4 linked regions of the Homo sapiens genome follow. The protein of the gene in region 1 interacts with the protein of each later gene in a pairwise test. Each region holds a gene or a part of one and is shown in the gene's direction. Other genes may lie near its edges.

The links.
Region 2: the proteins of ESRRG (region 1) and DEUP1 interact in binary tests that used the Homo sapiens proteins (3 or more experiments, as listed by UniProt).
Region 3: the proteins of ESRRG (region 1) and UBL7 interact in binary tests that used the Homo sapiens proteins (3 or more experiments, as listed by UniProt).
Region 4: the proteins of ESRRG (region 1) and NUP160 interact in binary tests that used the Homo sapiens proteins (3 or more experiments, as listed by UniProt).

The regions. Positions count from the first base shown.
Region 1 is NC_000001.11:216,713,417-216,720,449, reverse strand, and holds part of ESRRG (estrogen-related receptor gamma), read left to right. Parts: intron 1-5,200; exon of another isoform or gene 5,201-5,376; intron 5,377-5,815; exon of another isoform or gene 5,816-5,934; intron 5,935-7,033. UniProt on the Homo sapiens protein: Orphan receptor that acts as a transcription activator in the absence of bound ligand. Binds specifically to an estrogen response element and activates reporter genes controlled by estrogen response elements.
Region 2 is NC_000011.10:93,325,892-93,333,757, forward strand, and holds the start of DEUP1 (deuterosome assembly protein 1), read left to right. Parts: upstream 1-4,850; 5' UTR 4,851-4,881; intron 4,882-6,324; 5' UTR 6,325-6,368; coding exon 6,369-6,397; intron 6,398-7,866. UniProt on the Homo sapiens protein: Key structural component of the deuterosome, a structure that promotes de novo centriole amplification in multiciliated cells.
Region 3 is NC_000015.10:74,458,159-74,465,018, reverse strand, and holds the start of UBL7 (ubiquitin-like protein 7), read left to right. Parts: upstream 1-3,858; 5' UTR 3,859-3,982; exon of another isoform or gene 3,983-4,260; coding exon of another isoform or gene 4,261-4,351; intron 4,352-5,915; exon of another isoform or gene 5,916-6,000; intron 6,001-6,122; coding exon of another isoform or gene 6,123-6,151; coding exon 6,152-6,335; intron 6,336-6,860.
Region 4 is NC_000011.10:47,777,618-47,782,383, reverse strand, and holds the end of NUP160 (nuclear pore complex protein Nup160), read left to right. Parts: intron 1-1,936; coding exon 1,937-2,041; intron 2,042-3,189; coding exon 3,190-3,279; 3' UTR 3,280-4,266; downstream 4,267-4,766. UniProt on the Homo sapiens protein: Functions as a component of the nuclear pore complex (NPC). Involved in poly(A)+ RNA transport.

The DNA.
Region 1 (7,033 bases):
AAGTAAGAATACTTAAACTCTAGACTTGGAGCTCACATGACTTTTCTTCATGTTTTGTTTTTTATTTTTTTTCCCTACAATCTTGAAAACACCTGCAGCCTTAAAGGTATGTGGTGTTGGTGGAGTTTTCAGATGATTTCTCTGTAAACTGCTTGAAGTGACAATCAGCTGCAATTAGTTGTGAGCATTCTTGAGCTGTAGTTTTGTAACCTTGCCCATTACATTACTAAAGTGAGCGGATTAATTCTATTTTCCTAAAAATTAAGTAATCATTGTACATGTTCCAAACTATATATAGTTGAAATGGCCAGATGACTAGTATTATGTAACATATGATTTTCTCCTTGAAGTAAACAACAAAAAAACAACTGTTCCTGAGTTAATGAAATATATATTGAATGGGAGTGGTGGATAAATGATGGGTACCCCATGTTCCACTAGCCCTTTGTGTCAGGGTATTTATGTATTACCCTATACACATTTGGTGGTAAGTTTAAAAATCCCTTTTTTATAGAAAGGACTAAGAAACAGCTTTCATTTCCTGGGCAGAGCTAAGGGTGATGGTGTTGGCTATTTCTTCTTACAGTGATGGTTTCTCATCTTAATGTGTTTATGGCACTGCTGCTTTATTTACTGAGCCTAGTGTGTTGCAGCGGTAATTAACCCATGTTATTAGCAAAGCCCTTGTGGATATCCATTAATTCTCTTGCATGGATGATCATTTTTCTAGTGTTTTCCCCAAATAAGGTATCATTGTTCTGTTTTTTTCCCTAAATTGACGGCATTTGATATATTTCTTTGATTTAATCTGACCTGTAATATATATTGGTCATTTTATAAAGAATAATAATTAACTCAGCTTTTAAAAATGCTAATAGAAGCAGGAGGAAAGATTTTTTTGTTGTTGTTCTTTTTAAAGTGAAAAAAGAAAAGAAAAGAAGGTTTAAAAATAATGCAGGAAATCAGCTTTAACTCTAAATTTTTCAGATCTTACAATTTATAACAATTTATATCTTTGAGGTATTTTAATCAGTTTTTTTCTTACTTAGTTAATAACACTTCAGGCATTTTTGTAAAATATTGAGCCAGCAGAAAAATACTTGTGCTTCCTGGCTGAGAAAAGATAAGGACCATCTCATTAGCCGGGCCATACTTTTGCAATTAATTTTAGATACCTGGTGCTATTCATCAAAGAAGGAAGCTAACTTCTCTATGATTCTATTTAACAATACTTTTGCAATACCTCACTCCTGCAAGAATTACAGACAAAGAAGAAGCCATTCTTTTGGAAGGTAGGCATAATGCCCAATCTCAAGTCCGTATCACTTACGAAAAATTCCTCAACATTTGTTTTAGCTCAATGACTAAAGAAAATATTTCTCTGTCTTACTTGTAAAGTGATGTTAAGCACTGAAGGTTTTGCTTTGTATTATTTTATAAAATAAATTATATGCTGATGAGAGATACTTTTTCATACAAATGGCAATTAATAGCAATGATTTCTATTAAACCAATTAATATCAAATAAACTTTTTAGCATCACTTATCCAGCTTTTAGAAATAAGAGGAGAGGATCTGAGGGATCTCAGTAGAACTTTAGAGTCATTGCAGCAGATAAGCTTTGCTCTGAATTTTGCTTCATAGCAAATTCATGGAAGAGAGAAACAATACAATGTTGATCTATTATAAGTGCGTATGAGCTCCGGCCCTAGCCAGCTCTCTGGAGAAAATCTTTGATTACACTGGCCCAGTTTGTTCCATTTTTATCTCTTTTACATCCACTGGCATTGTATTAAATTGTCATGTCCTAAAGCACAACAGATAGAATGAATTGCAGTTCTCTACATTCTCTGACAGTGAGATATTTAGCCTCTCTTTCTCCAATCATACTTATGTGTATATTTGATAGTGCAAGGATGACACCAAGCATCTCTGCTGCTTGACAATCTTTCCATTGCATTTTGTATGTTTTTGTCATTGATTTTTTTGATAGCCATGTATATGTGGATATACATGAACTATACTATTATTAATAAATAAATACACACATGGTACTTTAAAACTCAAAGCAGTCGATAGGATACCCAGGAGTATATTTGTGTGCATGTATAGTATGCATGTGAAATATGCATGTATGTGGGAAGAGGTAATGTATACGTAGATTATAGGTATGCTGCTAAAAGTATTCATGTACATTTATATAATAAAGTAGATCTCAAGTATTATTCTAATCAGTTAGTTGCCAGTTAAATTTGCCAGGCATGATTTTAACCTGGAATTGGTATTTCAGGTATTTACAGATCTGATTTTAATCTGAGTTTACTTAACTACTGTGTGTTAGACAGGTAACAGGTAACCTAGTAAGTCAATTTGTTTCTGATTTTAGAATTTTCACATTATTGTTATTCATGTATTCAGTATCTGGAAATCATAAATAATTTGTAAAATAGGAAAGAAACTACTGATATTAAATGTATAATTTAATGGTTTGGGCCCATATCCAAGAAACAATTTTGAATTAGCTCTTGGCTACATTCTTTTCTTACACAATTGGGCCTGACAAATACATCTTAATGTAAAGCATGATAGCTTTCAAACAAATGCAAAATATGAATTTCCTTTATCTGTACTACATAAACATATCATTTGCTCTTTTTCTAAAAGCAAATATATAAAACTATAAGTATTATATTTCTATAAAGTACATTATAGATTTCAGAATTATTTAATTTTATTCTAAGAGGTAAGTTTAGAAGTCTGTGAATTTACTTAGTAAATGACTGTTGAGAGAAAGCACTTATGCAATTGCTTTTTCTATTCTAATTCTTGTTCTAATTCATGTTCTTTTTAAAATTCCTAGATTCATTGCCTACCTTTATTTATTTGCATAACATTTTAACAAATTTACTGCTATTGTGTTTTTAAAAAAATTCTGCTAACCGCTTCTTTATGCCAATCTATCAGATCAAAGTTAGCTCCTTTATTATCTGAGGGTGGGAAATGACAGCCTTTTGAAGGATTTACCTGGCCTTTTATTCTTGTTTCAAGTTCATTTTTAGTCTTGTACTTTGTAAGGTCTAGGAAACCTAAGCTAATAAAATAATTTCCATTCAGAGTTTTAGCACACACATCTCTCCACTCTACTTTTTCTTTCCAGAAGTGACACATGTTTCTTGTCCTATGATTTGGACAATATTTCTCAGTATTTTCCAAATGTGTTTTCTAATCAATTATCCAGGATTTTCCAAAAGTATCTTCCACTCAATTATCCAAAACTATTGAATTGAGAGAGTTTAGATTTATTGAGTGTTGTATATATGTGTGTATATACACAAATTTCCCCTTATAATGTTTAAAAATAATTTTAAATGTTTGAGGGAAACTTGCTTTTGATGTTTTGATTTCTTCAAATGATATGTCATTTTAATTTATGACAATGCATGTATACTTGGAAGGTAACTTACTGAGGCAAAACAATGAAAGAAAAGGTACAGTTTTAAAGAAATTGGCTTCCTTCTGGTCAGTTAAAGTCCATTTCAGTATACTGGCAAAGATCTATATGTGCATTTGAATGTAGCTATAAACCACGCAACACTAACAATTAGAAATACAACCTATGGCTATATGGAATTCTTTCAAACAATATAGAAAAGGAAAACACTTGGTTTTGGCATTTAAAAAATTTTAAATACCTATTAAATTGCCAAAACTTACAGGGAGCCTACTTCAGATTAGATTAAATTCTAAAAGAAGAACTGAAAAGTACATTTATATTTTAATTATAAAAAACAGTCTTTGTCATATATATTCCTCTGTGACTTCTCATTTTTCTTTGAGTGAAACAAAATTTCATATATACTTTTCATCATTTTGGTTGGAAGTACACATTATGTGTAATATGCTTTGGCAGGACTTACCTAGCCAAAGAAAACAAATTAATATTGGGCATACTGAGGGCTGTCAGGCATATCACAGACATGTCAATTTAACTTTGCTTCATTATACACCTTTTCTGCAAACAGTTGGCTAAGATGGTACTAAATAAAAGGGAAGCTACCAATAAATTCTCATATCAGATTGATGGCTAGTATAAATGTAATGAAAAAACAGCTTGCTTGCTTACTTATCTTTAAAAATGAACTGTAGGAATACAGATAGCATAGATAGCAATAAGTTTCCAAGAAAAAAATAAATTAGGTTCATTCAAATTTTTCTACTACCTTGAAAGTAAAATAGGTTTAGAAAGACAAAAGTCTCTGAAGTGGTGAACCTCAGTGGCTCTTATTTATGAAGTAAATAAAAACTTGAAGAAGTGGAGAATCCAAAGGAACACGGACAATCCACCTTTATCAGGGGACACCTCTTTTTGTTGCACTTTGCATATGTTTTCTGGAAAACAAAAAAATCTTACGCTTTCTTTTTGTATGGCATATTCAATATGCAAAAACAAAAGAAAATTAAAATATAAATTAAGAACTTATGTACAGAAAATAGGCAGAAGCACACTAAATTCTTTTTTTCCATGATCACAACAATACCTTTGTAAATGATAATTCCTTTTTCATCTACTCTAGAAAGATTTTACTCATTTTTCATGGCTTTTGAGAATTTGAACAAAGGATTCATTAAAGAAATATGTATTTTTTTCATACTCACAATGTGAGTTAAAATATCTTAAAAGGATACTTTTCAAGGCAGTTATTATGTAACAATATTTATAAGAACTTATGTTGCTTTGAAAATAATAGTAAATGCATATTAGTCATATATCCAGAACTGCATCCAAAATTAACCAAAATAACAGGTCATATAAAAAATTATAGACTGAGGTACTCATTAAAGAGAAAAAAAATAAACTGTGAGGTTGTTCAATTGATTGCCCTTTGCCCTCCATAATTCCAAATTATCCTAGTACATTAACTTCTCCAAAAATGTAAGATGGGCATGTTAAATTGTATTCATTTTCACATAAATAAAAGAATATTCTGATAATTTTTAATTTCTTTTCAGCCATTAATCCATTAAAACAGATCAGATATTTTGAGGAGGAATATCATACCCGTAACCAACTGTTCATGACCAAAGAAAGGGAAAGATGTATATGGTTGGTGAGAACCATGTCTTTTTCCTATGAGAAAGTGACTGTATACAGTTGGTGCTGGGTCCTATGAAATGACGGAAACATCCCTTTTATCCATAGACTTGAATGAGACCTGCCTCATCAGTCATGGGATCATAGTGTCACAGATGGAAAAGCAACTATCAGCTGAATTGTACTGAACTACACACTTGGCTAATTCATCTTATTGCTCTACACATCTAAAGGAAGGCTCATTCTGTTCTTGGAGTCTAGACAGCATCAGGAGTTGGGCTCAGGTGGGAGCATGTGGCCGCCTTTTTCTGTTCTCTCGTAGTCATTCAGCAAAGGGAGGTGAGGAACAAATGGACAATTTATGCACAGAAGCTCAGGCAGAGATTCTTTCCTAGGGTCAGGAATTTGTTGTTACTCAGTCATTCAAGTAGATTTCCGATTTCTCTTATGCTCTAGAAATGTCATTGTTATCTTTCATGCTCCAAAGTACTACCCGTAAATGATTAGGTGTGTCTTTCAATTCGTATGAGCCATGACCTAGTTTAAGCATTTTTTAATAGATAGAAATGGAGAACAGATCATCTATTTACATTAATGTGAATGATGATTCTTTTTTCATGTCTTTATATTGAACTATTCAGTTGGTTAAGTCTGAAGAATAAGACAAATAATAAGAGGTTAAAAACTCAAATTGTATTTTTTTATTTCTTTATTTTCTTATAGTGAACAAAACTTTAATGTCTAGAGCATTTATGAGGGTTTTAATGATTGGAAAATCTATCCTGAGAATGTGGTCACCATATGTGACAGCCTTGCTTTCTATCTTGTCTTCAGTTTCTGGGGTAAGTTCGGTGATATTGTCTATTGTCTTCCTTTGCTTACATTATAGAACTTCTCTGCTGCCACATTGAGATAACCTGAAGTGTGGGGGGAATGCCTGCTAAGTTCTAAAACACTTTCCTAAACACCTTCCCTTCCTCTATCCCGGCAGTATTTTCCTTTACAATTTCTGTTTCTATTCATCTGTTTTATTAAAGGGTCATTTACTTTGGTAAAAGGTAAGTGCATGATATTCACCCATATTTGCATACAGAGTACACCTGATTTTCCCTCTGAATTCCAAAGAGATTGCCTTCAACTTTTTATATTTGTTTTTCTTTTTGTTTCTGTTTGTAGTGCATTCTAGTTGAGTGCTTTTATAGTGTTTTCTTGATTGTTGTCAGTTTGGGATACTGGAGGCTGACATTTTTGCTAAGTTAATGTTACAGCAGAAAAACCTATGGTAAACTGGAATCTGGCTATAGTGCATAGAAGATACAACTTATGTTTGATTGTGTGTAAATACAGTTAGTTAGTTGGGGGTTTATCAGATAGCTTGGCAGAAAGAGAGAGGAGCAGTACAAACTGTTTTCAGTTAACTGTGCTGTTCATACACCTGATAAGACTGAGAGAGCTTTTCGAAATGCTGATAGGCTTTGAATAAGAAAAGAATAATCACTTCTACTGGCACCAGCTTATCAGGAATGAAGTAAAATGCCAACACTGTTACATTAGCAAAAGTAAATGTTTTAGACACTCTGTGCCTTTTTTCATTCAAGTTAAATAGGAGGGGTGCTTTTGAGTGTGCTGTTATGAATAGAGGGATTTATTACCTTGATGAAATTACAGGTGAATATGTTGATAAAAGAAACTTCAGCATCAACAGCAGCTTCTTTGATAAGCAGGTGCGTCTCTGCTGTACATTCTCTGGAGAAATTAAGTACTCCTTTCTCCACTCCAATTCTATTAAACATCATTTCTGATGTTAGAAGATGCAGTTATGCCCTATGTCAATCCAGTCTCCCTCTTTTTTCAGCAGATGGGTTACAGGTATTTGAAACTTAGCTGATCAGACTTGTAAAATGCTAGTGTGCTCTGGTTAAATAAGTTAGGGCATCTGTG
Region 2 (7,866 bases), on another chromosome or scaffold:
CTGTTCTGTTTTCCAATTCACAGGTTATCCCTTCACCTGTACCAAATCTATCATTATTCATATCTGTTGTGTTCTTATTTTTGGTTATTAGTAATTTTTTTCTAGTTTTAGAATTTCTATTTTTCTTTTTGTTCTGGCCTTTGTATTTGAGAAGTTATTTCTAGGAAAATTCCTGCTTGCTTCTTCCAGGTATCTTAACCTACCAGTCTAGTATGACCCTATTCTGAGTTCAAAGATGGAGGTTGTCCCAAATTACAGATGATTGCAAGCTGGCTGTGAGTCAGTAGGAGTACCGATTTATTTCCACCTCACCATTTTCCTGAGGGTAAAGTCATCTGGAGCCCCAGCTTAAAGACAGGGGATGTTTATTTATTTATTGAGCCCAGGCTTTGTCTTCTGCCCCTTTTTTTCACAAGACTATCAAACGGCTGCTCAGTTTTGCAGCTGTTTCTTCCAGAGCATCAAATGCCTTTGAAAGCAGCCTTAAGTGCTGGGCTCACTTCTCTAGGTTCATGTCTTTTCCTATATTTTGACCCAGTAATTTCCATCATATTAGCTAGTGACCCGAAAGGTTTCTGCAGAGTTGAGCTCAGAGAAGAAGTTGACCCAAGTGAAAAGAGGCCATTAAGCAGGCAGGCCCAACTTTCCTCTCTGGTTACAAATTTGTTTTTCCCATTAGGGCCCTTTCACTTCAACATTGTCCTAGTCATGAATGGCTCCAGGAAATAAGTATTACATCTTTAAAACTTTAGCTCACGACTATACAAAAATCTTTCTCCTTTAGCTCCCCTTAATATCTGAAAAAGGATGACATTTTCAAAACCACAGTGTCGAAACTCTAAAAGTCCATAAAAAGTAAAAGTAGAGAATTTTAGAAATCATAATAGCCATTTTTTCAAAGAATTTGGCTTTGTTTTCTGATCCTCAAGTGAAACCTGGCGCTTCTAAAGTCCCATCAGGAGGAGAAGCAGCCCTGATAGTGATGATTGACAGGCCTAGCAGGCATGACACAATGAAAGGCCTCATGCTGCCTGGTTAAGGGCTCAAATTTATGTATTTCTCTTCAGACGTCTAATGCCTATCGCAGCCCAGAGCAGGTTGGTAAGGATACTGAGGTAGGACATTTTCAAAATCTCTCTCAAATCACCCCCAAATAATTAAGAATCTCTCTCTTTGCATTGCCCTTCACACTTTAATGAAGAGCTTTAGGACATTGACCAGGCACCCATGTTCTCCAGCTTCCCTGTCCAATATGATAGCCACCAGTCATGTGTGACTATGAAGCACCTACATGTGGCCAGAATGAACTGATTCAGCTTTAAGTAAAAACTATGCAAAAAATATATAAAATATCTCAATAATTTTTATATTGACTAGGTGTTAAAATGATATTTTAGATATATTAGATGAAATAAATGTGTTATTAAAATAAACTTTATCTGTTTTTTACTTTTTAAAATTTGACTACTAGAATATTTAAAATTATACAAGTGGCTTGCATTATATTTCCATTGGACAGTGCTGCTCTAGGTGATCTTAGTTCTAAATACTGAATCTCTTCCTGCTGAATGGTTATTTTCTCAACTAGAATGTGTATTAAGCATCTCCAGAAAATTCCTTTGAAAATGTTTGCCATTAACTAACAATGAGACTAATCAAATAATTATAACTCTTTGGATCTGAGTTTCTTCACATCCAAAATGAAGAGGTTAGACCAGCAGTCCCCAACCTTTTTGGCACCAGGGGGTATGGTTTCAGGATGAAACTGTTCCATGTCAGATCATCAGGCATTAAATTCTCATAAGGAGTGCACAAACTAGATCCCTGGCATGTGCAGTTCACAATAGGATTCGCGCTTCTATGAGAATCTAATGCCACCACTGATCTGACAGGAGGCAAAGCTCAGGCCGTAATGCTTGCCCGCTGCTCACCTCCTGCTGTGTGGCCAGGTTCCTAACAGGCCACTGGCCAGTACCAGTATGCAGCCCAGGGGTTGGGGACCCCTGGGTTAGACTGTATCTCCTCTACAGTTTCTTACAATTCTATGATTATTTCATCATAATTGTTTTAAAAAAATTTTTAAGGTATGTTCTATGCATAATGGTATACTTAGTTTTTAAAATTATAATGAATATATATAATTTTTAAACTTGCTTTTTAAAAAATATAAAAATAAATATTTCCTTGTTGATACAAAGACAGACATGAAGTTATTTTATATAGCCACGCATATGCTAAAGTTGCACATTCATTTACTATATTGCTATTATAAATTTTCCCATGAAATGATTTTGTTATGAAGGTTTTTAAATTTTAAAGGTTTAGCCTATTGCTTTATTATTTATTCCCTATAATTGGTCCCTTAGCTTTTCTTCCAAAGGTCATCCTTATTCTTCATCCATTTATGCCCCCTATATTCTCCTTTGACCATTTCCGGTTACATTTTATCTTATCCTCATTTTGCCATGTCCTCCAATTTTCTTTCATGACTAAGCTCTCTTGTCAACTCTCACTAACCCTGTTTAGGAAGATTTCCACCCTGGCCACACTCTTCCTCTCCTTTAGACTGGAGCTTTCCTGGTCTCATCCCTTTCAAAACAAACTTACCTGAAAATATCTAATAATAAGGACATTTCAAGGTGAATTCAAGTCTTTACTGTTACTTCTTACTAGCAGGGTAGGGAACAGGTATTTGCATTTTAAATCTTAACTCTCATCCTGAAATGAAAACCTTTATTCGTATTAAATTGAATGGGATGTTCCTATTCTATATTTAAATTTTCCTAAAATCCATTATAGTATGTGTCTTCTTAAATGTTTTTGCAAGCATTCCCCTGCACCTATTCTTCTATGTGAAAACATGAAACCTGGCCGGGCGCGGTGGCTGACTCCTGTAATCCCAGCACTTTGGGAGGCCGAGCCGGGTGGATCACGAGGTCAGGAGTTCGAGACCATCCTGGCTAACACGGTGAAACCCCGTCTCTTCTAAAAATACAAAAAATTAGCCGGGCGTGGTGGCGGGTGCCTGTAGTCCCAGCTACTCGGGAGGCTGAGGCAGAAGAATGGCGTGAACCCAGGAGGCGGAGCTTGCAGTGAGCCGAGATGGCACCACTGCACTCCAGCCTGGGCAACAGAGCGAGACTCCGTCTCAAAAAAAAAAAAAAAAAGGAAAACATTAAACCTACAGTTTGCTAAGGAAGATCCTGACTGCTAAAGAAACCGACTCAACCTTAATGTTTGGAGAACACTGGATTTGGAGTAAGATGATCTAGGTTTACATCTTGATGTATCATCCATTTCAAGTGCAAATCCATGGACAAATCCATGGACATATCCTTCATTCTCTCTAAGCCTGGGTTTCCTAATCTTCTGAAAGAAGCTATTAATAACACCTGATACACTTGCTGAGTGTATTTCTGAGCCTCTAAAGAAATAATGAACATGGAAGCACTTAGCAATGTTACATAGCCTTAGTGATCTTGGGCATCCTGAGATTTCATTAAATTTCGTTCCTAGTTCCATTTTCCCTTCCTTGGGTTAGAAAAAATACATTGACCCATTCAATTCAGATAAGAATAAAGAATATACGCGTTTTCAGAATAATGAAAAGTTTCAAGTTAAGATAACACAGTCACTCTCTTCATGCAAACATGAGAGCTATGAAACACCTGTTAGAACTGATATCCCAGGTGACCGTATACAATTCATCTATGAAGCTCAATTTGTCAAGAAACAGCATAATGGTTTTATAAAATTCAGATGGGACCTGGACGGAGGGATGTGGGTGCGCATTAAATTCATAGAATATTAAAGTAGCAAATTAGCGTTAAAGTGATGAAAGTAAAGTGCAAATAAAAGACTTTAAGAATTAAGTAGTCGACTCCATGTGTTAGGAAGGAATTATTTGGTTAAAATAAATCAAATACAAAATTCAAGTGCTTAAAACAAATCACTCAAGATGTCAGTTGGAAAACATATATTCTTTCCTATTATTTCCTCTATGAAATGGAGACAGAAAATCTGTCATCAATGACTCTTGGAATTTGGTGGAAAAAGGAAAGAATCTGGAATCAGTCCCGTTGAGTTTCGTTCCAGCTTCTCCTCTTAGAAGCTATTCTCTTCTCCCTGAAGGGAGGCAACACTGTCCGTTCGCCTGACTGGCAGTGTTTTAAGGACCCATCGCGCTTGACGGGAAAGTCAGGTACAAGCTGATGCTGTTATCACCACAGGAACCAGGGGCTGAGCGGTGAAATCCAGCTCCTCCCAGCTGGAAGACGCTAGGGTGAACGGAGATAAAAGCAGTTCTCTTTACCCGAAGTTTATTTCTTTTTCATGCCACTTCAAATTTGGGTAAGAGGAAAGAGGGCCAAGGGGATTTAAGGAACCTGGATGATGAACTCCCCAGCGGTTTACAGTTCCTTCGTGATCTATTTGGTTCATTCATTCAACAAGTATTTCCGGGCTGCAGCTTGGGTGCCCAGCCTTGGGGTAGGCAGTGGGACTACAAAGAGGAAAGGACCCAGAATAGAGGGGGCACTGGACGTATAACTGCGGGACAGCGAGGTCGCGCTCGCGCGGGGTGAGGTTGGAGGCAGCCGAGGAGCCGCACAGGGCAGCGCCTGCCGCCGCCGCCGCGCCCATCCCCCACTCCGACGGCCACGAGTTCGGGCCGCGACGTCCCCATGGCAACACGCGGCGGCGCCGCGCGCGGGGAGGGAGAGGCCCAACTGCCTCGTTGGTCGCGCGGCGGGAGGGCCCAGGCGGCGGGAGCGCGGCGGCGGGTGGCGGGGCCCCTTGGGGCGGGCCTGGCGGGGCGGGAGGTGACATACGCGGTCCTGCGCCCTCGCCTCAGACCTCTCGGGCGAGCGCGGCGCAGCGCAGGTAATGGCTCCTGGCCTTCCCGGCCCCGCCTCGCCCCTGACCCTCACCCAAAGGCCAGGCTGCGCGGGTCCTCGAGCGGGACAGGGGAACCCCAAAAGGGCGGCCGCTCTGCGGGAGGCTGGGCTTGAACCGAGCGCGGGTCCTGGAGGGGCGCGTGGCGCGGGGACAGAGGCTGGGAGGGGAGGCCCGCGCTTGCAAATCCAGAGCAGAGCTGCGCCCTAAGTTAGAAGGACTGGGCTTCAGTTGTGTGGCCTTGGGCAAGCCACTTAACTTGTCTGTGCCTCAGTTTCCCTGACGTTTAAGTGAGATATTTGAGAATCTACAAAACCATTTATTGGTCTGCTCCTTCTGGTCAAGTTTTCCTTCACCATCCCTGCTCCTCTCCGCTCTGTCTCTCTTAATTCCAGGGTCTCTCTTAAAACTCTTCGATTTGGAAGTGATGTGAGCTCGAATCTTCCTCCTCTTTCTACCTCCTTGAATGTTCTTTAATTGACTTTTATTCAGTGATTCGGAGGAGTTGAAGTCCTTTTCAATACTTTCTCCAGTTATCGTCATAGATTATTTTTTAACTAAAATTGTGTTACTGAGAAAAACTTTTTTTTTTTTTTTACTTTAGGCAAATGCTAACATCCCTATTTTGTCAAGAGGTGAGCCAGTGCCCATAGAGCCATTGAAGAATTTCAAGATTTCTTTTTAAAGGCATTCTTAGCCTTTTTGTCCTAAATCTCATAGTTATAGTCATCCTAACAAAACCCAGATAGGGCCAAAGAAAGAATGTACTCAAATAAAGGCACACCTTTAGGGGAACCACAAGAATAGAAAGTTTGAGAACATCTGGCTAGAATTTCTCTTTTAATGGGAATTCTGTTTTACTCATTCTCATGTACTGAGCCGTTTGCGAACAACGTAGTACAAGCTATTATTCAATAAGTAGTAAATGGATGCTCATTTTAGTCCGTACCACATATTTCAATAAATCACTAAGTCAATATCGTAAATGCATAGGGGTCGCTAAACAAAAAACTCAAGTTTGGGAGGCCGAGGTGGGTGGATCACGAGGTCAGGAGTTCGAGACCAGCCTGATCAACATGCGAAACCCCGTCCCTACTAAAAATACAAAAATTAGCCGGGCATGGTGGCGATTGCCTGTCCCAGCTACTCAGGAGGCTGAGGTGGGAGAATCGCTAGAACCTGGGAGGCAGAGGTTGCAGTGAGCTGAGATCGTGCCTCTGCACTCCAGCCTGGGCCACAGAGCTAGACTCCGTCTCAAAAAACAAACAAAAAACCAAAACAGAAAACTCAGGTTTCTATATTTTGTAGGATCAAGAGCTACTACACAGAAAAACTCATACTAAATGGTTTTTGCCAGTAGCAAAATTTTCATGTTTTATAGGTTAAAGAATATAAACATTTTAGGAACTTGTATCATTTTCCTCCTAACAGATTAAAAATCAAGAAATATAAACCAGATGTAGCAGTTTCTTGACATGGAGAACCAAGCCCATAATACGATGGGGTAAGTGCTGAGAAATTTCTGTTTAATAAGTATGTGCTTAACTGTGCCAAAAACTTCCTGAGAACACATGAATTTTGAAATTTACTATTAATAGAAGGATATGCCAATTATTTTTGGTGAGGCGGATGAGAGGAAATATGAAGTGACTGTAATTAAGGATTATAATGCGAGACTTTCTGATTTTGACACTACAGATCTGCACTCAAAAATCACTGTTTTCCAACTTTTAGTGACTGTCCAATATCTAAGGGTGGTGGATGCGGAGGCAGGCCTCGTGTGCTCTTCTGTTACCACAATGCAACCTTTCTTCGCCAGCTTGCTCCTTTTTTGCCGCATTGAGTATCTCAAGTTTCCCTCTACTCTTGCCCCTTAAGGCTGAACTCAACACTTAAACATAGCCTGAGAATAGATGCAACTCCGTAAAAACATCATCAAGAACTAGATATCTTACCAAAAGTTTCACGAAGAGATAAGAATAAAATTTGTATAGCATTTGTCATTGTAGAAAATCAAATTCCTGTTTACAAATATCTGTCCTAACTCTTTACCTGCTACCTGCATCACAGAGTTTTCTCTTCCTATTGTTTCACTAGCCAACTGACCACTGGCTGAACACAGAGTTTGGGGAATGAAGGGGTGAAGGGGTGGTTGTATAGTGCCTAATCTTGATTGCAACTGACTTTGGCGCTAGTCACACCACTTCAGGTGTCTCACTTTCAGAAATTCTGCCCAGACCATAACTTTGATGTCAGGCTGAAAGAAAGCTGCACAAGTTTGGATAATAATCATAGCTATCACTTTTTAGCTCCCACTGCATACTCCTTCTTACAACAGCCCTGCTAGGTATTATTCTCATTTTACAACTAAGAAAAGTAAATATATTCGAGTACAGTCTAAGCTCTTATAACAAAGAGACTCCAAAAACAGCAGCTTAAATAAGATTGAAGATTATGTCTGTTTCATATAGTCGTCACAGGTGCTGCGCTCACCCAAGATACACGGACCAGGATTGGTTTGGCAACTCTGCCATCTTCATTAATGATTTCTATCTCTAGGACCAAAGTGGTTGTTTCAGCTCCCACCATCATAAGTGTGCTCTGCCATCATGACTGTGCTCCTTCCATAGGGAAGGAGAAAGGCAAGAAGAGAGAGTAAGACCTTTTCTTTTAGGAGTATAACATGGAAATGGCAGGTCTCGCTTCTGTTCACTTTCCATTGGCCAGAACTTTATCCCAGAGTTACAACTAGCAGCAAGAAAGGCTGGGGAATATGGTCTGTAACTAGGTAGCCATATGACCAGATGAAGCTTAGAAGTTCTAGAACAAAGGAGGAAGAATGGATATTGCTGAAAAACTAGCATCCTCTACCACATTGAGGCTCAGAAAGGTAGAAAGACAAAAAAAGCAGGAGCTCATCCTAGAATATACACCAGGTTAGTAGAGAAAGTAGGATTTGAATTCAGGTATGCC
Region 3 (6,860 bases), on another chromosome or scaffold:
AACAAAAAGCAACCCATAAAACCAAAAGCCAAAACCAAACCCAACCTCTGTAGTCTTGAATTTGAAGTAGCAGTATAAATATTCTCTATTTATATCTCTATGGATATAGATCTCCCCCTAGCTCCATCCACTAATGTGGCTTACAAGTAACAAACAATTCAGTAGCAATAAGCATCCCTAGTGCCCAGATTGTGGTCTTAATATACCATTTCCCACAGAAAACCATATGAATTTCTTGAAGAAATGGCTAATTTTTATGCCTAGGGCAGGAAGTACAAGATTAGCTAGGAACTCTTGTCATGCTAGATAGCAGGGAGCTATCAAAAACCTCCAGGGTTATGTCAAAAGGACTCAAGAATCAAGTTGAAGAGGAGGCTCCATTGTTATGGTACTGTATTAGTCTGTTCTTGCACTGCTATAAAGAACTACCTGAGACCAGGTGATTTATAAAGAAAAGTGCTTTAATTGACGCACAGTTCTGCAGGCTATACAGGAAGCATGGCTGGGGAAGCCACAGGAAACATACAATCATGGCAGAACGTGAAGGGGAAGCAAGCACATCTTCACATGGCAGAGCAGGAGAGAGAGGGCAAAGGGGGAAGTGCTACACACTTTTGAACAACCAGATCTCTTGAGAACTCACTGTCATGAGAACAGCAAGGGGGAAGTCTGCCCCATGATCCAAACATCATGACCTCCCACCAGGCCCCTCCTCCAACATTGAGGATTACAATTCAACATGAGATTTGGGTGGGGACACAGAGCCAAACCATATCAGGTACCATGAATGTCAACATGAGAAAATACAAGTATATTGTGGAAAATGAGAATCAAGTTTCCTACTATTGCAGAAGGGAGGTAAAATTATAGAGAAGAGGAAGACTAGAGGAAAATATGTGGTATTGGATTGGAATTTGAGGTATTGGTGTGAACTCATATTTTATATATACATATATATTTTGATATATGTGCACATATATATGCTCACATATACATAGATCTATATATACATATACACATCTATATGCACACATATTTAAATATATTTCATAGAAATATAGATGAATGGGTGTGTATATCAATATTCATTTATTTGCTAGGTCTAGTCACTGAAATAGACTGGAAATAATGACATCTCAGTAGCAATAAACACACCTAGCATCCAAACTTGGCTTCTAAATACCATTCCTTACTAAAAGGAACTAAGGCTCTTTGGAGAAATGAATGATGTGACAGATGTGAAAATCTATGACATAACTTATGAAAATGGCAGAGAGATGATCAGCCTCCACCCAACTGGAATGGTTGATGAAAGCTGAATGAGATTGTAAGTTACATGGTATTATTGTATTTATTAATTTCTTGATTTTGCTGGGTTGTACTGTGGCTGTGACATAGAATATATCCTTGTTTTCAGGAAATACAGAAATACTTTGGGTAATGTCTGTAATTGGCTCTTAAACGGATCGGGTGGAAAAACAAAAGAACAATATGCATAGTGAGAGAGTGAGAGAGAAAGAATGATGAGGTAAATGTAAACTATTAACAACTGGGGACTTTGGGTTAAGGGTATGAGGGCATTATTTTGTAATATTTTTGCAACTGTACTGTAAACTTGAAATTATTTCAAAGTAAAAAGTCTCAAGAATATTTGAGCACAGGGGAAATATTCAAGCTAGGTAAAATATGTAGATTACTAAACAAATGTACAGTGTAATCTAAATTTTGTTGAATATACATATTTAAGATTCAGTAAAATTATACTTTTAGAAGCATAAAACAAAGTTAACAATTGTCATCTATTGGTGATAGAATAGCCATGCCCCTCTTAAAGCCAAAAGGCTAGCAGATATCAAGACCTACTCTAAAGTTAGAGAAATCAAGACGTGTGACATTGGCACAATGACAGAAAAATACACCCATGGCACAGAATAAGAGTCAAAAATTGACCCAGACATACATAGTCACCGGATTTATGACAAAGCTGCCACTGAAATTCAGTGGGAACAAAATTTTTAAATAGTGCTGGATCAATTGTACACCCATATGGAAGAGATGAATCTTGATGTCTAACTCCTATCATATACAAAGATTAATGTGAAATTAATCATAGACCTAAATGTGAAAGATAAAATAACACAGAAGAAAACCTAGGATAGTATCTTCATAACGAGGGCAGGCAAAGATTTCTTACATAGGACACAAAAGGCACTAACCATCACAACAAAATTTCAGGCCGGGCGTGGTGGCTACCGCTTGTAATCCCAGCACTTTGGGATCACCTGAGGTCAGGAGTTCGAGCAGCCTGGCCAACGTGGTGAAACCCCGTCTCTACTAAAAATACAAAAATTAGCCGGGCGTGGTGGCAGGTACCTGTAGCCCCAGCTCCTCAAGAGGCTGAGGCATGAGAATCTCTTGAACCCGGGAGGCGGAGGGTGCAGTGAGCCGAGATCGGCCACTACTGCACTCCAATCTGGGCGACAGAGCAAGACTCCGTCTCAAAAAAAAAAAAAAGTTTTAAAATGAAATTAAATTATCTAATACCATTAAGAGTAAAAAAAAAATCATGAACTGGGAAAGTATTCACAATATATAATTTTGATAAATTATGGAGCTCAGGTGCAAGTAACTTAGTAGGCAGGAGAGGAAGGAGTCTAAAGAAGTCTAGTTAGGAAGGATTACTGAAAGAGGGGGTATATCTAAAAATGGGTAGGATGGGAAAGGGAGACTTTGGGAACAGCCATGGGTTCCTAATGCGCCCACAACATACATGGGAGTTATCCTGAAGATAAACTCCCTGAAGACAGTGAAAGCCATTTCAAAACTCCCCATATAACTTATGAGAACAGAGGGGTGATCTGCCTTTAATGTTAGGCCTTCTGAGATCCTGCGATCTGTTCGCTCTCCTCAGTAACATTACCCTGCTCAATTGCTGCCTTAATCCCAGGTCGCACATTGGAATGTGGGAATTCAGCGTTTACATTTACCCACACAGGATCAGCCTTCAGCTGCTACGATCAACTTCAGTATTTTCATATAATCACTTTTTTCTTTCCTTAGTTCTTGAATTATTAATTCCTTGAGAAGAGTCCAATCAGAGGTAGTCTTTCTTCAGTATTTTCGGTAATCCTAATTTCTGTGCAAAAAAATTTCTGTTCCATTTTAACCGTGCAGAACTTTCTGTTATCTAAAACACAGTTTCTCTATGAGAGTTCAGTGAAAATTCCCCTTCCCAAACTGATTCTATGAATGACTGTTAGATAAGCTTCACCACTGCATGTAGAGGGTGTACCAGGAACCCAAGTTAGTAGCTCTCCTCAAAGACCCAACTTTTGGAGGGGGTCATCGTCTGGTTCCTGGTATGCCTCCACAGGTAGGTCCGCCTCAGGAAGTCAGCGGCGAGGAGCACAGAAGAGGCTGCCTTCACCAACGGACAGCAGTTTTCATCGTGAGGGCCGTCGGCAACCGCTTGGATGTGTCTAAAGGGGCCGTTTGGGAACCGGCCCTTCTGGAGGGAAGGGTCGGAGTGGGAGGGGATCCGGGATCCGCCTTACGGCCGAGTGTCCAGCAGCGCGTTCCAACCTGGCAGAACCGACGTACTTCATATGCTCCTCAGGGGAGCGCGGGAATCACCAGGCTGAAGAATGACTGGAAATGGGACCCTCTCCAACCAAAGCACCCAGACATTCCGGCGCCGGACATTTCAAAGAGCGCGGAAGCCACGCCTTCCCCCAGAACCGGAAGCTTTGCAACTAGCGCCTCTTGTAGACTGGCTGTTTATAAGGGGGCGGGGGGCCACAGCGGGAACTGCAACTCCCAGAATGCAGCGCGGAATTTCCGGTTTCCGGCGAGAGGGCCAGAGTGAGTGTTTACACCGGCGGCAGTGCGGCCGGGTTCCTTCCGCGGGACGGGTGAGGGCGCTGGGGCCCTGGGCAGCGCGGGCTCGATGTGTGTCAGCCAAGTAGCTGGTCCCACTGGAGCGGTGAGGTCGCCACCGGATAGTGTTCCTGCCCCATTACTAGCGATCTGTGACCTTGGGCCAGTGATTTTACTGAGTCTTGCTTCCCTCATCTTTAAAATGTGGCTAATGCCTGCCTTAGGGAACCGTTGTGAGGATTAAGTGAGACATGGTATATAAAACGACCTCCTTCTGGCATAAACTTGAGGTGGAAGATACCTTGAGGATGCTTGAAGGTCTGCTAGGCAGCTTCACAGCCTTTTCTTTCCTCTTCTCTATCAGAGGTCTCTTTGGAAGCAATAATGATGACTATAACAAGAACTTATCTTGCTTTGCAAGATTCTTCCGCCGTCAGAGTTTCTGATTTATTTTCTGGGGTTCCATGTATGCCAGGTATGGGGACAAGGATGAAGAAAACTTTAGTCTTTTGTTTTCAAGGGCATTCAAGAATTGGGGTGGAGGAGGGGGCAAGCAGATATTTGTAGCCCTTTTGTTCTGAGGGGATGTGGGAACAACAGAGGAAAGAGAGGGGACTGAGGTTATTGAATCTGTGTTGGTTTCGGTAGGAGTTTGCTAAAAGGCCAAAAAGGGAAGAGAAATTACATGCAGAGTTAGATGAGCAGAGGTGTAAAATAGGGGAGAGCTTTGTTATGAGTGTGTACTTACATGTTGTGGAGGTCCTTTGCAGGGGTAGGGCTCTGTTGGGGAATGAGGCTGGCAGGGAGTTTTGTAAGCCAGGCGATGAAGTTTAGACTTAATTTATATAGATGGTTTAGAGGTATTGGAAGAGGTCTTTTTCTGGGGGGCCGGGGTGGGGCAGGGAGGGACGGAGTCTCTGTCGCCCAAGCTGGAGTGCAGTGGCGCTATCTCGGCTCACTGCAACCTCCACCTCCCGGGTTCAAGCAATTCTCCTGCCTCAGCCTCTCAAGTAGCTGGGATTACAAGCGCCTGCCACCACGCCCTGCAAATTTTTTCTATTATAGTAGAGATGTAGTTTCACCATGTTGGCCAGGCTGGTTTCAAACACCTGATCTTAAGTGATCCGTCCTCCGCGGCCTCCCAAAGTGACAGGATTACAGGTGTGAGCCACCGCGTCTGGCTTTTTTTTTTTTTTTTTTTTTTTTTTTTGCGACAGAGTCTCTCTCTGTCACCCAGGCTGGAGTGCAGTGACGTGATCTTGGCTCACTGCAACCTCAGCCTTCCGAGTAGGTGGCACTACAGGTGCGCACTACCACGCCCAGCTAATTTTTGTATTTTTAGTAGTGACGGGTTTCACCATGTTGGCCAGGCTGGTCTTGAACTCTTGAGCTTAGGCAATCCGCCCGCCTAGGCCTCTCAAAGTGCTAGGGTTACAGGCATGAGCCACCGCGCCCAGCCCGACATTGGAAGAGTTCTAAGCAGAGAAGTGACTTGGTCAGATCTGTGTTTTAGAATGATGGGTTGTGGCCAGGCGCAGTCGCTCATGCCTGTAATCCCAGCACTTTGGGAGGCCGAGGCAGGTGGATCACGAGGTCAGGAGATCGAGACCATCCTGGCTAACACAGTGAAACCCCGTCTCTACTAAAAGTACAAAAAAAAAAAAAAATTAGCCTGGCGTCGTGGCGGGTGCCTGTAGTCCCTGCTACCTGGGAGGCTGAGGCAGGAAGGCAGGAGAATGGCGTGAACCTGGGAGGTGGAGCTTGCAGTGAGCCGAGATCGCGCCGCTGCACTCCAGCCTGGGCAACAGAGCGAGACTCCGTCTCAAAAAAAAAAAAAAAAATGATGGGTGTTGTTAGGTGGCAGCATAGATATTTGATAGGGAGAGGCAAGAGGCAGGGAACTTGTTATAAAGCTGTTCTACTGGTTCAAGCAACAGTTGAAGAAAATTGGAAAAAGGGGCATACAGAAGGGAGAGGGTTAGATGATCTCTCTCACAACATTCCTATTAGATTGGATGGCGTTTTTATGTCCACGTTAGGGATGAAGAAACTGAGGCCTAGAGAGCTGTCCATCACAGTATGAGTAGAGAGAGAACCCCAGATTCTAGTTCTGGCCTCCTGATGGTACGCCCTATGCCTCTTCAACAGTGTCACATTGAATTGTCTTTCATTCAACCCTTTGGTGGGTGGGGGTGGAGTAGAGTGGTGGTCTGTCTTTTAACCACTGAGGTTTTGTTCTTTTACAGGGAGAAAGAGAGAGCGCGAAAGAGAGAGGATGTCTCTCTCAGACTGGCACCTGGCGGTGAAGCTGGCTGACCAGCCACTTACTCCAAAGTCTATTCTTCGGTTGCCAGAGACAGAACTGGGAGAATACTCGCTAGGGGGCTATAGTATTTCATTTCTGAAGCAGCTTATTGCTGGCAAACTCCAGGAGTCTGTTCCAGACCCTGAGCTGATTGGTGAGTCTCTCTGGACTGGGGTTGGGCTGCTGCTCTGATCTCTTTTGGGGGAGGATACTTCTGGAATTACAAGAGTAAAGTAAGGGCTTGGGATTTGTTGCCTCATAATGTTAACACTCCAGGGAAGTGAATGTTGGGTAAATAGAAACACAAATCATATAATGAAACTATTGGTTGCCATTTCAGCCATGTATTATACTGAACTACCTTATCACCAGGTTCTTTATGACATTGTCTTGTTTTTTGTTTTTGTTTTTGTTTTGCTGTGTAGCCCAGGCTGGAGTGCAGTGGTGCGATCTCGGCTCACTGCAACCTCTGTCTCCTGGGTCCCAGTTCAAGCAATTCTGCCTCAGCCTCCCGAGTAGCTGGGATTACAGGCACACACCACCATGCCCAGCTAATTTTTGTATTTTTAGTAGAGACATGGGATTTCACCATGTTGGCCAGGCTGGTCTTGAACTCCTAACCTTGTGATTCTGCCCGCCTCAGCCTCCCAAAATGCTGGGATTACAGGCATGAGCCACC
Region 4 (4,766 bases), on another chromosome or scaffold:
AAGTTGAGGAACATCGGTATAGGCGCATATATATATATATATATATATATATATATATATATATATATATATATATATATTTTTTTTTTTTTTTAACTGAGTTTTGCTCTGTTGCCCAAGCTGGAGTGCAGTGATGCAGCCTCCACTTACTCCCTCACTGCAGCCTCCGCCTCCCGGGTTCAAGTGATTCTCCTGCCTCAGCCTCCTGAGTAGCTGGGATTACAGGCACCTGCCACCACATCCAGCTAATTTTTTAATATTTTTGGTAGAGATGGGGCTTCACCATGTTGGCCAGGCTGGTCTCGGAACTCCTAACCTCAAGTGATCCACCCACCTCGGCCTCCCAAAGTGCTGGGATTACCCATGTGAGCCACCATGCCCGGCCTAGGCATTTCTTTTTATTATCATGCTATGTAAGGTGAGAATCTGAGAGTAAATTGAACTATATGTTAGTGTATTTAACCTTTACTATCTGTAGTTATACAACTAAATATTGACACTCTAGGAATCTCTAGTCTCCTGTTTATAAAATAGGAATTTCATCTTTCTCTATCAAAATAATATGGCATTAGTTAGGATTCAGTGGAGAGAGATAAACAAAATGGTATTGTGTGTGTGCCGGGACTGTGTTAAGTCTCTACAAGCATTTTTTTATTTAATCCTTATAGCAGCCTTATGAAGGAATGTTTTAATTTTCTATTTTTTAACCCATGAGGGAACAGGCTCAGAGGTTATCACAGGCTCATACAGATGGCAAATATAATAGAAGAGCCAGGTCTAAATAGGTGTAGTTAACTACAGCTTCAACCCTCATGAAATCAGCCAGGTGCAATAGCTCACACCTGTAATCCTAGCACTTTCGGAGGTCAAGGTGTGAGGATCGTTTAAACCCAGAGGTTAAGACCAGCCTTGGCAACATAGTGAGAACCTTTATCTACAAAAAATAGAAAAAAATTAGCTGGTCATGGTGGTGCGTGCCTATAGTCCCAGCTATGTGGGAAGCTGAGGTGGGAGGATCACATGAGCCCTGGAGGTTGAGGGTACAGTGAGCTATGATCATGCCACTACACTCCAGCCTGAGTGACAGAGTGAGACCCTGTCTGAAAAAAAAAAGAAAGTTGACATGAAATTATTTTTTATTTTTATTTTTTTATTTTTTCCAAGACGGAGTCTCGCTCTGTCGCCCAGGCTTGAGTGCAGTGGCATGATCTCGGCTCACTGTAACCTCCGCCTCCCGGGTTCAAGCAATTCTTCAGCCTCAGCCTCCCGAGCAGCTGGGACTACATCTGTGCCACCACACCTGGCTAATTTTTGTATTTTTAGTAGAGACGGGGTTTCACCATATTGGCCAGGCTGGTCTCGAACTCCTGACCTTGTGATCCGCCCACCTCGGCCTCCCAAAACGTTGGAATTACAGGCCCAGCCGACATGAATTTTTAAATATATTTAACCGAAAAAAATGACAAGTTTCCCAGTTGGAGAAAAGAGGGTTCCCATTGTGTGCATGCACATGTATACACACAGTTTCTTGTGGTTGGGGGAAAAAATGCATTTTATTTTGCCGGGCACAGTGGCTCACTTTCGGAGGCCAAGGCAGGTGGATCACTTGAGGCCAGGAGTTTGAGACCAGCCTGTCCAACATGGTGAAACCCCATCTCTACTAAAAATAAACATAAAAAAATTAGCTAGGCATGGTGGTGCACATCTGTAGTCCAGCTACTCAAGAGGCTGAGGCACAAGAATTGCTTGAGCCCAGGAGGCGGAGGTTGCAGTGAGCTGAGATTGTGCCACTGCACTCAGCCTGGGCGACAGAACAAGACCATCTCAAAAAAAAAAAAAAAAAGGGTATTTTATTCTACAGAGTCCTATGAAAGCAACTACCCAGAAGAAATGGTACACTTTGCAGACTGTTTTCAAATAAACATTTTCCTTTTAGTTTCCACTGTCCGCAACAGCCCCAATGGTGTGGCTTCCATACTCCTCTATTGATCAGCTTCTCCAAGCTCTGGGAGAGAACAGTGCCAACAGTCACAACATCGCAGTAAGTCAGCCCTTTCATGAGACGTCTTGTGTAAGCCCCTGCACTAGCAGTTACACCTTACAGCTTGATCTTCAGTTCTCCGGGATTAGAAAGGGAAGACAAAAGCCTATTTTTGGCCCTTAACAAACTGCCCAGTCCCTTTATAGATAAGGCAGAGGATCTAAGTAACAGGATCAAGAAAACATAATGAGGAACTGTGTAAGTGTTAATTATACAGAGACAAATGGCAAGCAGTCGGTCCATCCTTTAAAGCTTTTAATTTGGTAGGGCAGACCCTACAAGGTAAACAGGTACTTGAAATACAGCAATGATAGGCCGGGCGCAGTGGCTCACGCCTATAATCCCAGCACTTTGGAAGGCTGAGACGGGCAGATTACCTGAGAGGTCAGGAGTTCGAGATCAGCTTTGCCAACATGGTGAAATTCCATCTCTACTAAATATACCAAAACTAGCCAGGCATGGTGGCGGGCACCTGTAATCCCAGCTACTCGGGAGGCTGAGGCAGGAGAATCGCTTGAACCCAGGAGGCGGAGGTTCCAGTGAGCCAAGATTGCACCACCGCACTCCATCCTAGACAGCAGAGTGAGACTCCATTCCCCCACCCTGAAAAAGAAAGAAATACAGTGTGATAAATTATCACTGTCCTGAGGGAAGTTGGCATATATAACAACATTTCTCAGGAGTCATATATTCACCCTGCTTGCCTTAACATAAAAAACAATAGTGTTTCCTTGAGTCATTATAGTGATGGCTTATTTTGTTTACCAGTGAGATAGAGTGCCTCCTGAGCCTATCTAAAATATTAGTTCTATATTTCACTTGGCAGCTAATAACTAGTTATATCAGATGCAGCATTTCTGGTTCTGAGAAAAGAGTTAGTGATCCTTTTATTAGAAATACTGGTACGATTTCCATACTTAGAAAATTCATTCAGAAAATGAGACTGAAATGTTGTATATAACAGAGAGGCCTAGTTTTATCAGTAGAGTCACAGAGGAGACTCCTATAACAAATGGTGATTTTATGAAGCAGAGTGGCTAACATCTTTATAAGGTGGAATCTACTTGGTGAAGTCAAAGTTATTAATAACTTCAATATTTTTCCATTGTTGAGCTGTTATGTAATGTTTTCCTTCTTTTCTCTTATAGCTGTCCCAGAAAATACTTGACAAATTGGAGGACTACCAGCAAAAAGTTGATAAGGCAACACGGGATTTATTATATCGTCGGACCTTGTGATTTGGATTGTCACCTAGCCTTTGTAACCGCTTGGTGCCTCTTAGGACTTAAGACTACCCTACAGGAACCCTGTACTCAAGGCCGATTTTTGTAACTGTAAATGATGTGTACAACATTCAAGTCTGCATTCTGCACAAGATAGGAGGGCGGAAGAGTCAGAGGACCCTGTGCTTGCTGGTGGTGCTAACACAATTTCTGGTGTTCAACCTTGGTCTCAAATAGCTGCTTTTGTATATGATTCACGAGCTTTTTTAGAGTTTATATTTTTTTAAACTACCGAAGACATTCATTATCTGCAAATTAAGACTCACCTTCACTTTCCAAAATAGCTGAGGGTTGTTGGCTTGTTGTAGCTGACCACCAAAAGCAGTCACTGCAAATCTTTTAATTCTTCCCTATCACCTTTTGTATTTTAATGCAATTATTTTGGTCCAGAACTGACCTGTATTTTCTGTATTGTACACAAAAGCTAATAATTTTGTGTACTTTTTATTTATTTTGGAGGTTTTATATGATCTTCAATTGAGTATTAAATAATTTGCCTAGATTAAGCCTAAAATGATGACCAGCTAATTAAAGAAGATATTTTGAATCTGGTTCTGAGCTAAAGTTGAGTAAATTCTTAGCTAAGAAAAAATTGGAAATCCATCATCTATATTAGCAACAGATTCTCAGAGTAAATTGTTAACTTCTATGATTTATGATAATCAAGCTGGACTTGATCATACAAGTTAGTCTCATAATGTATTGGACCAAAATGTAAACTTCATTGGTCAGATTTAGAAGCATTCATGCTCACAAGTTTTGGGAAAGTGAAAAATAATAAAATCATCTTGGATTTTATTCTGTATATTAAAATTTATCTTTTAAGGAAACAATCTGTATACTACTTGCTTGTATAGCCTTTTGACCCTTCTTGAGTTTTTCAGAAGCCTTTAATTTTTATACTTTCAATACCATATTTACATTATATACTTTAATTAACAATGTGAGTTTCTCTGTGGTACTGTTGTTGATAGATACTGAGGTGTGTGTTTCTTTTTTTTTTTTTTTTTTTTTTTTCATTTTAGCTCTACTATGATTAATACGAGGCATTTGGTGCAATTAGGGACTGGGAGAGCCCCTGTCCTCCCAGCTCTCTAAACCTGTGGCTTTCAACGACAGTAAGAAAGACATTTTGACCTACATACACATATATAACCAAAAGAAAAGTTTCACAAAATTTGTATCCTCACCTACAGTGTATCCTGATGTTTTCATGAGTGACTAATGGATCATAACCCATAGTATGAAAACATCAAGGGCCAGGCGTGGTGGCTAACTCCTATAATCTCAGCACTTTGGGAAGCTGAGGCAGGCGGATCACTTGAGATCAGGAGTTCAAGACCAACGTGGCAAAACCACATCTTTCAAAAAAAAAAAAAAATTAGCTGGTCGCAGTGGTGCGTACCTGTAGTCCCAGCTACTAGAGGGGCTGAGGCGGAAAG